Linked DNA regions of Homo sapiens. The protein of the gene in region 2 binds, or shares a complex with, the protein of the main gene of each other region. Each region holds a gene or a part of one and is shown on either strand. Other genes may lie near its edges.

Region 1 (3,749 bases), on a different chromosome or scaffold from region 2:
GGAAAAACCCAAAGGAACTTTCCCAATTCAAATCCTTCAACCACGATGGCTACAGGTGCCCCTGAAAATGCTGCCTAGCTTATCCTCATCTTAAAACTACCATATTTCTCTTTTTTATTTTGAGAACTTTTTTCCCCATTTGTCCCCTGCCTTACAAAGAGGAAAACTGAGCTGCCCCTCTTCTAAAATCACTTTGGGGGGTAACGCCTCAGATATCAAGTAAAGTTGCTTCTGTCATCACTAAATATTATCTCCATCTTCAAAGTAATAAAACGTCAGAAGAATGTTCCCCTAAGAGAAGTAAGCCTAAAACTATAATATTCAATGTCTTCTATAAACCTCCCTATATGGCCAAAAAAATTTCTTTTTGGAGGCTGGGGGAAATGTAAGCATGGAGAACGGACTGCAAGGACCTGGGAGTTAGTGTGTGGTAATATGCACTTCAAGGCTGAAAGAGCTGCAATGTACAATGCCAGGACATTCCTGCCCTGCACTCTGAGGGATGCTGCACACGTCTAGGTCCTCTCAAAGCTATTCACACAGTGAGTGTTACTAGTATTGGTTAAAACAGCATTTAGGCTTGGAAGCAAAGCCTCTACAGAGTCCTTTTTAGCAGAAGGTGGAAAGAACACTCCGGAATAGAGAACTACATTTTCTGATTGCTGTCAGATCGCTTTCTAGAGATCACAGATGCCAAGAGCAGGGATTAGATTGGTTTGGAGCACAGTGCTGGTGAAGGCTGGCATGCAGGGGTACAATACCTAGGGTGGGTGCACTGGCACTTCGTTTACGATCTTCAGATATCCCAACAACGCACACAATCACACGCAGCCCAATGGAGAGAACACAGAGATGACAAAATGAAATGCAGATCAGACTCCTCCTCGCCAAATACACACCGTGGAGGAGAGGCATGCGGCACACAGTGCTTCTGATGTTACACACAGGCTCAACGTCAATGTTAATTTATCCACTATCACAACAGATGGGAAACTCCATGATGAAGTCAAAGGGAATCATGATTTTAGGTCTTTCCGCTAAGTTTATACCACAGGAGAGAGCAGGGTGAGAGTCTATATATCTTCACAACACTAAATTAAATCCACGGAGGCATTTTTTGCTAAATTCCCCTAAGTCATTCACCTTCGTTTCTGAGAAAGAGAAATGAATCAATGAATGAAAGAGTAAGGGAAGGGAAGACACTGCTCTTTTCCTCCTTGTGGAAGAATTAGGGCAAAGGCATTTTGGTCATACGTACCTAAGTTTGGTGCACTTGCTGTTCTCTTGTTACTTTTGATTTTAAAAAAGCCCCGGCCAAAGGAAGATCTGACTTTTCGAGTGCCGAAGGGGTTGTCATCCATGGAGGTGTCCTGCCCTGGGGGCCTGGGAGGAAGGGTCCCAAATGGCCTGCTTTCTGCCGGAGCTCTGTCCTGAGAGGCAAATAAGAATAGTGAAACAGCTCTCAGGTGCAGCATCCTCAGCACATGCCAGGCTAACAGCAAATACTCACTCACGCCACATCCATGAGTTTATTCAAAAGAATAACTGAACTAATACATTGATCACCAATGTCAAATGCCTTATCAGAAGTTGAAAAAAAATCAATTCTGAAAGCTACTTAAGAAACAACAACAAAAGCAACAAGGAAAACATGTTCATCACTAATCTAGAATCGATATGTCTAGGGCTTTAAATATTTAGGATACAAAAATTCTTAAATTTTGTTTGCCTCATTCCTCAAAAGACATGGAGACATTACATAACCAGAATAATAGCAGCAGATTTCTGACTTTTCTAACAATTATGTCACGGATTTAGCTATAATACAGTTCATATTCTTATATTATAACTTTGTCAATAGAAGCCTAATATAATATTAATTATTCTACAAAGCAGGCATTAGTTCAAACTTCTATACCAGCAGTATAAGGAGATTCTATTCCAGTTATTTTAAATATTCTCCTCAAAGAATAAGAAAATGAAGGCACAGTGAGCAACTTTATTTTGAGCTTTTTGGTTCTTTGAATGGGCAATTAGAGCCAGCTGTAACACAGTATATTATTTTAGTATTTATACAAAGATGCTTTGCCTAGATCAATGTCATGAAGTGTTTCCCCTATGTTTTCATCTAGCAGTTTTATAGTTTCTGGTCTTATATGTAAGTTCTTAATCCATCTTGAGTTGATTTTTGTTGATTTGGTGACAGGTGAAGTCCAATTTCATTCTTCTACATATGGATATCTAATTTTCCCAGCACCATTTATTGAAGTGGGTGTCCTTTATACAAAGATACTTTTGTCTTCTTGTTTTCATTTCTCTATTCTTTCCCTCTGCTTCTTTTTTTTGCAGAAGTAGAAATAATTCTTGCCCTCTGCTTCTTTTTTTACAGAAGCAGAGAAAAGGGTGAGGGGATATAGGTATTTTAGGTGGTTATTTTACTCTATATATCTACAGCTCATAGAAACCAAAAGTTTACAGATGGCACAATTTAGTGATATTATCATCCATGGCTCAACAATGACGTCAAAATCATTTAACCATTTATTGAACTGAAAAGACAACAAGGATTTTAATTATAGCTGTCACCACTGGCTGCTTTGTCAATTCTATCCACATATGACTCAGGCACTAAGAGCCAACAGTCAAGAGACTGGATCTGGAGGTAGCCTATCAGGCTGTAATCTTCACAAGGTTAATGACAGAAAATCAGAGGACAGAACAGGCACAGTGGCTCATGCCTGTAATCCCAGTACTTTGAAAGGCAGAGGTGGGAGGATTACTTGAGCTCAGGAGTTCAAGATCAGCCTAGGCAACATGACAAGATCTCATCTGTACTTAAAAAATAAAAAATAAAAAAAAAAACAAACGAAAAAAAAAAACAGCCGAGTATGGTGGTGCACGCCTGTAATCCCAGCTACTTGAAAGGCTGAAGTGGGAAAATCACCTGAGCCCAGGAAATCGAGGCTACAGTGAGTTATAATTGCACCACTGCACTCCAGCCTGGACGACAAAGTGATACCATTTCAAAAAAAAAAAAAAAAAAAAATCAGGGGAAAGAAGAATTGAGCACATGTTGACGACATCTTTAAACATACCAAAATGTTTGCTTTAGATGGGCACCGGGTGTATAATCTAATGGTAATCTAAGAAGGGCTTTTGGGGAGGTCTAAGGAAGCTCAGTTATGGTCATTAGGAACATTAAGTAGCATGACTGAGAGACTATGGTTTTGTTTTTTAATAACTTACTGAAGTGAAATTCATAACAAAATTAACAATTTTAAAGTGCACAATTCAGTGGCATTTAGTATGTTACGATGTTGTGCAACCACCACCTCTACCTGCTTCCAAAACATTTCCATCATTCGAAAGCAAAACCCCTTACCCTTAAACAGCTTCTCCCCATTTTTCCCACCTCTTACCACTGGTAACCACCGATCTGCATTCTATTTCTATAGATTTATCTGTTCTGGATGTTTCACATAAACGGAATCATATAATATGTGAACTTTGTGTCTGGCTTCATTTAGCATAATGTTCTAGAGGTTCTGAAAGTTTTTATCTACTGGAGACATTTAAGCAATTTACATGTAATGGAAGTAGAAATATTTTTGCATTGTAATTTGGACAAAAAGTTACCTCTGAAGTCTTCTGAATAGTTTCCTTTTCCTGTTCAAAGCAATAACAATATTTAAGGTTGTTAGGGAAATCCTTTGTATAATTCTGAATTTGTCACATACAACTCCATAAGT
Region 2 (3,749 bases):
AGAATAAAGACAAAGCCTACAGACTTGCCTTTCCACTCGTGCTTGGTGTATTTTCTTGTTCATGGTTTATGTCCAGCACTCCATCTGTTAGAGTTTTTTTCTGATTATTCTGTTCTTTAAGAATCATTAGCTGAAAGCAAAAAATTGAATATGAGTGTAAAATACCTTACATAAGAGAAATAAGTAAAGATAGCAAAACTCCTTTTGGAAAAACACAACTAAAAACTGCTTAACATAGTATAAAAGAGAAAGCATATGGCAATGCTACCCAATCCGAAAATAACCAGATCATTGAAGATGGAATTTATTATCCACTGGCCAGACGAGTCCTTAGGTAACCATCATTTTGTAGTCCTTAAAATGACTCAGATAGGCTGGTCCTCAATTGGGAAGATAAGTAACATGTGATATGTACAACTACAGTCCTTATACTTCTTTTACTTTTTTTTTTTTTTTTTGGAGACAGAGTCTTGCTCTGTCACCCAGGCTGGAGTGCAATGGTGCAATCTCAGCTCATTGCAACCTCCACCTCCTGGGCTCAAGCAATTCTCATGTCTCAGCCTCCCGAGCAGCTGGGACTAAAGGAACATGCCACAACTCCTGGCTAATTTTTGTATTTTTAGTAGAAATGGGGTTTCACCATGTTGGTCAGGCTGGTCTTGGAACTCCTGACCTCAGGTGATCCGCCCGCCTCGGTCTCCCAAAGTGCTGGGATGACAGGTGTGAGCCACCACGTCTGGCCTTATGCTGCTTTTAATAATTAAAGGATAAAAATAACCCCCCCCCAATTCAACTCATGATGAAGTCTCAAGCTTACCTCTTTGTGTGTGGCACCTAATTCCTCTTCTAACAAACTACATCTTTCAAGTGCTACTCGTAATCGCTCTCTCACCTGAAAATAAAAGGGGTTGAGTTTGTGTGTGTGTGTGTATACTGTTTATTTTATTCTTAATATATAGTTAAGTGTAATATATACACTTAATGTATATATTAGTGTAATATAACATAATAAAATACCATTAATGTCTGTCATTGATCTTACTGTCAAGAAAACTTGTTAATGGCTCTAAATTAAGTTTCAGAAAAATAAATCTTCCCCCGAAATATCAGGTTGTTGCAAAAGTAATTGCAGGTTTTGCCCACAATTACTTTTGCAACAACCTAATACTACCCAATTTGTAACAGCAAATCAATATACATTAGTAATTTTAAGACATTTAAGCCAATTAGTACTTTTTAAACCTACAAAACCCTGTCTTCTTAGAGAAGTTATTTCCAAGAATTCAAGAAGCTTCAAAAAACAAAAGTTACACCAACACTTGTGAAGCTGGCCTAATACACAGCATGTGCACAAACCAAGACTTATGTGGCTGATGGCACCTTTTCATCCAGAGCTTTGTGGTGTTCAAATAAGGACTTCAGTGCTTTCAGCACTTCCACTTCGCTGGACACGCCTGCTGGAGACTGCGCTTGTCTCTTCACCACGGTCATCCTAAGAGACCGCTCATGCCTGGAGACAAGGCATTCCAAATGCTCTAACAGCAGCTGAAATAAAAGGCCAAAATAAAGACTTGTTAAACAGCATTTTTAATTTCATGATTGAATCTGGGGCAAATAACTCCTTTACAGTCTCATACTAAAATGAAGTCCCTTCAATTCCGCAGAAAAACAAATTCCTCTCAATTGTATTAAAATATCATAAATTCTCATCACAAATTTCAAGCCATTAATGTGTGATCATGCTGACTAATCACAGTCTGCTCAGTGGGAAAAGGTATGAAAAGTATTTCAGGCCAGACAGAGTGGGTCGTCCTTTCGTTTTGACACACCGCCCCTCCTCCTGACAGTGGCTCCAGGGGCAGGCAGTGAACAGAAAGGTCACACTCACCCTGGTGTTATTCCTTTCTGCTTTCAGTTCAGCAATTTCTTCTTCCCTTTCAAGGAGCTGTTCCCTGCATACATTGAGTTCTTTAGTAAGTGCTGCGAACTCCTAGAAAATCACAAAACAAAATTAAATAAATAAGAAAGACCCCCTAAAGAAAGCCTTTCATCAAGGCTCCACAGTCTTCACACAAAGGCAACCTCATTACAAGTTATGGGGAAGGGATCTCAGTGATCCTCCAGAGAAAGAGGGCATCAATGGACCACACAGATTCCCTAACAAATCACAACACTGACAGACCATCTGACTTCCCTCTATCCCTGCACCCTGGGACAAGGACAGCAGGGAAAGAAGGGGAATCCAAGTCCACCTTCTCAGCAGCCAGAGAAGTCCAAAACATTTTCCTGAACAGGATCCTGACATGAACTGAATGAAGACATTTTAAATGACTCACAGACATGTGATCTAGAGTTGCTGGAGAGAGAGGAAAGATGGCCTAGAAGGCCACCACCCCTGTCCTAGCCTCCTTTTCTTCCTTTTTCTTTCTGAGACAGGGTCTCATTGTGTCACCCAGGCTAGAGTGCAATGGTGTGACCATGGCTCACTGCAGTTTTGACCTCCAGAGCTCAAGTGACCCTCCCAAGTAGCTGAGACCACAGGCTTGAGCCACCGTGCCCAGCCTCTCTTCTAAAGTAATATTTCTTCTGCAAGAATCCCTACTGTGGGTAATCAACTTCTAGCATGACAGCACAAGAAGCTCCACTGACCTGCTTGCTCCCAAGGAAAACAGGTGAACATTGTAAGAAAACAACTGTTCTGAGACTCTGGAGATCGTTCTAAGGGTTCACAGCAAACAACTGAAAATTCAGTAAGAAAGGCCAGAGTCTGTTGTATTTGAACCAAGACTGCTCCCTGCCTCCCCTTTCCAGGTCAGTGAGGCAGCGACTCTGTTCCAGACTGCTGCAGCTGATAATGTAGTGCCCTCTCCCCCAGTTCCACCCCACCCCAGCTACGTGGTGCTGATGCTGCATCCTGGCTAGTGGAGTCATGGGCAAAGTGGGCCTTCCTACCTCTGTCCAGCCTCCATTCTGGAATGGAGGCTCAACTTTGAGTGTGGCAGGCTGAGAATACTGGGGGTCCTGATCAGCTGTGCCCTGGCTCTGTAAGACGGTAGCTGCAGGGCTGGAGTGACAAGCTGAGAGGGCCCTGGCTGCCGCCATAAGACCAGGGGCGTCATTCAGGGAGAAACGAGTTTGGTGACATTTAAACCTCTTTAAATGTTAGGGCACTAACATTTAAACCCTGGGCACTCTCTTTAAACCTAGGAGCAGTGGAGGTCCTAGTGAAGGCAACTGGAGGTGTGGGTTTAATGGAGGCACAGCCTGGACTGCGGCTGGCTAGTCAGCAGGGAGAGCTGGAGAATTCTTGCTGCAGGAGCCCTCCAGAGTAGGAACAAATCTCCTAAAATGACTTCAGAAACTGTTTCTTAGAATTAGCCACAATTTCACTGAATTGGTTTCTAATTATCCCAGGGCACTGCTGAAGACAACAGAAACATATGTGGGGCTCAGAACTGAGTGTGGTCAGAGAGAGTGGAAGACAGCAGCAGGGTGACTGTGGACACATCCAAAGCTGCGCCTGGCTGGGGAGTAACAGCAGAGGCTGAACACAGCGGGGGTGGGGAGGGGACACAAGCACATTCCACTACATGAATCTAGCATTCACTGAACTGCTTAAGCTGGCAAGTTTTATCTTAGTATATTTTATTGCAATTAAATATATATAGACATTATAAACATATTATACAGTGAGTTTTGGAGACAAGGCTGCTCCTGAGACCATAAAATTAGCTAAAGAACATGAATAG

The links. The genes of interacting proteins can lie anywhere in the genome.
Region 1: PPFIA1 (region 2) and PPFIBP1 share a complex: the UniProt entries of both Homo sapiens proteins name them as parts of the cortical microtubule stabilization complex.

The regions. Positions count from the first base shown.
Region 1 is NC_000012.12:27,674,109-27,677,857, reverse strand, and holds part of PPFIBP1 (liprin-beta-1), read right to left. Parts: intron 3,667-3,749; coding exon 3,637-3,666; intron 1,431-3,636; coding exon 1,259-1,430; intron 1,152-1,258; coding exon of another isoform or gene 1,084-1,151; exon of another isoform or gene 795-1,083; coding exon 762-794; intron 1-761. UniProt on the Homo sapiens protein: May regulate the disassembly of focal adhesions. Did not bind receptor-like tyrosine phosphatases type 2A.
Region 2 is NC_000011.10:70,322,643-70,326,391, reverse strand, and holds part of PPFIA1 (liprin-alpha-1), read right to left. Parts: intron 1,991-3,749; coding exon 1,889-1,990; intron 1,585-1,888; exon of another isoform or gene 1,546-1,584; coding exon 1,381-1,545; exon of another isoform or gene 1,265-1,380; intron 893-1,264; coding exon 818-892; intron 131-817; coding exon 29-130; intron 1-28. UniProt on the Homo sapiens protein: May regulate the disassembly of focal adhesions. May localize receptor-like tyrosine phosphatases type 2A at specific sites on the plasma membrane, possibly regulating their interaction with the extracellular environment and their association with substrates.